Linked DNA regions of Homo sapiens: region 1 is linked to region 2. The links come from fine-mapping of genetic effects on gene expression. Tissue or cell type: whole blood. Region 2 holds a variant in brackets; the other region holds the start of a gene. All regions are shown on one strand. Distances are from middle to middle.

The links. PIP is the estimated chance that this variant, and not a neighbour inherited with it, causes the effect.
Region 1: it holds the start of HCST, and the variant in region 2 is fine-mapped to the expression of HCST in whole blood (TOPMed, PIP above 0.99).

What each region holds. Positions count from the first base shown.
Region 1 is chr19:35,901,035-35,903,775 of GRCh38, forward strand. HCST (hematopoietic cell signal transducer) reads left to right here and starts at 1,495. Exons shown (of 4, transcript NM_014266.4): 1 at 1,495-1,602; 2 at 2,317-2,382; 3 at 2,738-2,741. The coding sequence starts at 1,560. It also overlaps a transcript of NFKBID not described here.
Region 2 is chr19:35,849,636-35,852,135 of GRCh38, forward strand. NPHS1 (NPHS1 adhesion molecule, nephrin) reads right to left here. Exons shown (of 29, transcript NM_004646.4): 1 at 2,145-2,500; 2 at 1,822-2,037; 3 at 1,627-1,749; 4 at 1,326-1,454; 5 at 729-810; 6 at 1-18. The coding sequence starts at 2,202. It also overlaps a transcript of KIRREL2 not described here. Among named protein-coding and RNA genes, the nearest start is that of NPHS1, 1.6 kb to the right of the region's middle. RefSeq lists enhancers at 1,515-2,155, 2,156-2,500. The variant A/G (reference allele first, on the strand shown) is at 1,520.

The DNA.
Region 1 (2,741 bases), 52 kb after region 2:
GTTGGCCAGGCTGGTCTCGAACTCCTGGCCTCAGGTGACCCGCCTGCCTTGGCCTCCCAAAGTGCTGGGATTACAGGCTTGAGCCATGGTGCCTGGCTGGGGCCTGGATTTCTGGGTCTGTGTCTAAGGGGGTGCTGGAGGCTTTGTCTCCTGGGTCCTGCCCATGGGGGTAGGGGTAGGAGTGGGGATGGAGATGGGGTGGGGGCAGGGAGAATATTACTGGGTCCAGAGGGAGGCAGGACTGGGGGTCTAGACTCCCAGAGGAAGGGTCTGTGGGTAAGGGTATAGGGTGTGGCTCAATTTCTCCCTCTCCCCTACATCACCCTTTTTAGAGGTCTGGTTTCATTTACTCATTCATCATTTAAAATAATTTATTGCAGCAGAGGAGGCATTTTGCTGTGTATTGTGAACTAAGCAGGCAGGAATTCCCAGCCCTGGAGCTGGCATTCCAGTGGGAGGCCACTCTCAGTTTCACTTGGTGACCTTTCACAGCACTGACCATGTTGGCCCTATTTCTCCCCTGCTTGCTTGCTTTTCTATTTTATTTTATTATTACATTTTTATTGTTAGAGAGAGGGTCTCATTCTGTCGCCCAGGCTGGAGTGCAGTGGCAAAGTGGTGAGATCTCGGCTCACTGCAACCTCCACTTGCCTCAGTCTCCCAAGTAGCTGGGATTACAGGAGCCTGACACCATGCCCGGGTAATTTTTGTATTTTTGTAGAGACGGGGTTTCACCATATTGGCTTGAACTCCTGATCTCAGGTGATCCCCCCACCTTGGCCTCCCAAAGTGCTGGGATTACAGGCATGAGCCACTGCGGTGGCCTCTCCCCTGCTTTCAAGATGCCATGCTCTCAGGGGTCCCCTCCCTCTTTCTCCATTTCCCTGGCAAAGTTCCTCCTCTTCCCCCATTCAGTGTGTGTTGTGATAGGGGCAGAATCCTGTCTGCACTCACTTCCTTGGTGATCTCACCCAGTCTTGTGGCTTTAAGTACCATCCATAAGCCATCAACCCCCAAATTTACATCTCCAGACCAGCCTTATCCCCTGAACTCCTAAATGCAGTGAGGTTATTCAGCATCTCCACAGGGAGATTGTCAGGCATTTCCAACCCTGTATGCCCAAACCTCGTCACTTTCCCCGCAAACCCACTTCCCTACCTTTCATCTCTGCCAGCAGACACTCCCATCTTCTCAGCGTTTCATGCCAGAAGGCTTGGCTGTCTAGGATCCCTCTCAAACACACCCACATTCATTTAATCAGCAAATTTTCTTGGCCCTACCTCCAAAATATTTCCAGATCTCCCTAGCCTGCACACCCTTGCCACCTGTCATTCCCACTTGGACCAGGCCAGCAGCCTCCCTGGTCTCTCTGACCCTCCCCCTGAGTTCGTTCACCAAAGGCAGTAACGGAGACACCCCCTCAACACACACAGGAAGCAGATGGCCTTGACACCAGCAGGGTGACATCCGCTATTGCTACTTCTCTGCTCCCCCACAGTTCCTCTGGACTTCTCTGGACCACAGTCCTCTGCCAGACCCCTGCCAGACCCCAGTCCACCATGATCCATCTGGGTCACATCCTCTTCCTGCTTTTGCTCCCAGGTGAAGCCAGTGGTTACAGGGGATGGTAGGCAGAGCGTTTGTGAGATGGGTGCTTGGGTGACGTCTGCAGGGACGGGTGATGAAAGTGGGGTTCTTCTCCCTGCACCCCTTCCCTTCTGGGAGATCCATTCTGCTTCAGGGCCTGGGTCCTTGGGGGCGGAAGGGGGTGAGACAGGGAGTTCTGGAGGGGCTGCCTGTTAGCGTCCCCTTCTCATGGCTGGGTCTCTGCTGCCACTTCCAATTTCTTGTCACTCTCCATGTCTCTGGGAGTCCCCTTCCCATGTGGTCCTGTTCCATCTCTCCAGCCTGGAGATTACTTCTCAGGACACTACCTTTCCTTCTCTACACCCTATTTTTTGGTTTGTTTATTTTGAGATGGGGTCTTGCTCTGTTGTCCAGGCTGGAGTGCAGTGGCACAATCACGGCTCACGGCAGCCTTGACTTCCTGGGCTCAGGTGATCCTCCCAGCTCAGCCTCCCGAGTAACTGGGATTACAGGTGTGAACCAACACTTCCAGCTAATTTTTGTATTTCTTGTAGAGACGAGGTCTCACTATGTTGCCCAGGCTGGTCTCGAACTCCTGGGCTCAAGCGATCTTCCTGCCTCGGCCTCCCAAAGTGCTGGGATGACAGGCGTGAGCCACGGTGCCAGGCTGAGCATTCTGTTTTGTGGACCTTCTCTCCACCCTCATCCACCTTCTTTCTCTTTCCACAGTGGCTGCAGCTCAGACGACTCCAGGAGAGAGATCATCACTCCCTGCCTTTTACCCTGGCACTTCAGGTATCACTTCCACCCCAGAAGCTTGGCCAGAGGCTCCCAGAACACCCCAGTGGTTCTCCAGGTCACCATCCCACCTCCCGTCCCCAAATCAGAGGATCCGTGTCCTTCTCCGAGTCCCAGAATCAGCGACCCCCAGCCTGTGTTCAGGAGCACCCCGTGTGCCCGCCGCACAGCCCCGAGGGTCCTGGGACACCCCAGCCTCTCTGCATCTGTCTCCCGTTTCATTCCCCAAGCGCAACTCCAAGGAACCTGGGACCCGCCCCCTCGCAGGGGACTTCCTCTCTGCCTGTGGCCAAAGCACAGCCCCAGGACGCAGAGCTTGAGTTGTCTCCCTGTTCCGGCCCCCACTCTCCAGGCTC
Region 2 (2,500 bases):
GAGCTCCGGGGTGTCACCCTGGGATGAGAAGTCAGGGTTATAGAGTCAGAGTCATCATCTGAAATTTGGGGAGTCAGGGAGAAGAGGTGGGGATGTCACCTCTGGTCCCCACACCTGGTCTAAGTCCCCATGCTGATCTCCTCTGGGATCCAGGGTTCCATGGGAGAGATTTTGGGGGTGAACAGTGAGAATTGGAGCCTAGAGAGCCCCACATCTGACCAAAACTTTAGTGCTTGGGACTCTAGAACTGAGGTTCCCATGAAGTTTTTTTGTTTGTTTATTTGTTTGTTTGTCTTTTGAGACAGAATCTGGCTCTATCACCCAGGCTGGAGTGCAGTGGTACAATCTCAGCTCACTGCAACCTCCACTTCTTGGGTTCAAGTGATTCTCCTGCCTCAGCCCCCTGAGGAGCTGGGAGTACAGGCATGCGCCACCACACCCGGCTAATTTTTGTATTTTTAGTGAAAACAGGGTTTCACCATGTTGACCCAGCTGATCTTGAACTCCTGACCTCAGGTGATCCGCCCACCTCAGCCTCCCAAAGTGCTGGGATTACAGGCATGAGCCACCACCTCTGTTCCCCATGAAGAAGCTTTGAGAGTCAGGATGAAGAATTGGGTCCCAGATGTTCATACCTAGCCCAAGCTTCATGCTTGCATCCCTGGGGTCTGGGGTTCCCATGGGGAAAATTAGGGGTCAAGGTTGGGGGGTTGTTTCAGTTTCCACACCTGGCTGTGGCCTCCACAGTGAAGAGTTTCTGCTGGGAGCCCTCGTTCACGTTTGCAGAGATGTCAGATATTGTCTGTCCACCTTGGGGCAGCAAGAGGGCTAGAGGGGTTCCAGGCTCCCCGCAAGATAGATTCTGGGGAGCATGGCCTGGAAGTCCTCAGGGTGGGTGCGATGCCCCCTCCCTCCTCGTTCTAGAGGAAAAGGGCCTGGGGCAGAGCTGCATCCCCTCCCGACTTTCTGGACTGCCTGAATGCCGCAGTCTTCAGTGCTGGGTCCTGGGCCTCCCCGCTCTTCTCAACTCCTTGCTGGGTTGTACCATGCACCCTATCCCTCAGCTTCTCATGTCTGCACCAGCGCTACTGCCCATATTTCTATCTGGGCCTCAGCCTTGTGCTGGTTGCTGCCGCCCTCGATGTGCCCTCGCATCCACTGGGTCCCACACTGGCCTCAGCATCTCCCCACACCTTCTCCTGGGTCCCCATCCCAGGGATGACATCTTTTCTGGGGCCCTTAGAAGGGTACTGGTCAGGAACACACACCCTTCCCACTCCAGAGGCTTCATGCTGCCCCCTGCCACCCAGTTCACCCACACTCACTCAGGAGAATGGTGATGTCAGGTGCTGGCTTCGCGTCCCCAGACACACAGTTGACCACGTACTCCTGCCCAGCTACCCAGGTGACCATGGTGCCTGCCTCTGGGGTCAGCAGGAGCAGCTTGGGAGGAACTGGTGAGAGAAGGGTCTGGGGTAAGCTTCCAGCACTGAGAAGGACTTGAAGATTGGAGTTCGGT[A/G]CCCAGAGTCTGGGAGAGGAGAGGCTGGGGGCTTGGACTTCCGGGTTGCGGGGTAGGGGAGGGCTTGAAGCCCAGACTCATGGGTCCTGGGCGTCTCTCACCCATACCCAGGATGGAGAGGATCACTCTGGGAGACACGAGCTCGGGCCCCATCTCAGAGCGGCCGACCTGGCACTCATACTCCGCGTCATCGCTGAGGTCACAGGCCTCGATGTGCAGGTGGAATTCACCTGCAGGGGGAGCCGGAAGTCAGGGCCGCAGCTTCCGCTGGTGGCTGAGGGTCTCAGGCTCTGATCCCTTACCTCTAGCAGGGTCCCCTTCCAGGCGGTACCTCGGGAAGCCTGGGATCCTGGGGTCGGGGCCCAGGAGCAGCCCATCTTTGGCCCATTGCACCGCACTGCCAGGGGTGCTGACCCCACAACGCAGCTCCACTGAGGCCCCCTCCACCACCGTCAGGTTTTCAGGCAGGGCCCAGAAGCCCCGGGGAACGGAGGCAGGAATCGCCAACTGCGCCAGGCCTGAGGACACAGCGCGGTGCAAGGAAAGGGCAGAGGGTTTGTCTAGGGAAGGTAAGTGGGAAATGGGGGCCACTTGGCGCTGGGTACAAGGCTGGGATCCCACTCACCTTCAGTCAGCAGCCCCAGGAGCAGGAGAGAAGCCCTGAGCGTCGTCCCCAGGGCCATCACAGGTCCCCCTACTGTGACCCCCACAGCGCCCGCTGCCAGCCACCTGCGTCTGTCTGGCTTTCTCTGGGTCCCTCTCTGTGTGTCTCTGCCACCTGCTTTTCTTTTTTATCTCTTTCCGTTACTCTCCTCCCTTTCTCGTTTTCCTCTTCCCCTCTTCCCTGTGAGTATCTCTCTCTGTCTTGCTCTCAGTCTCAATCTCTGAGTCTCTTTCTCTGTCTCTTTAAAAAAACTTTTTTTTCTTTTTTCTTTTTTTTTTCTTTTTTTTTTTTTTAGAGACGGGGTCTCACTATGTTGG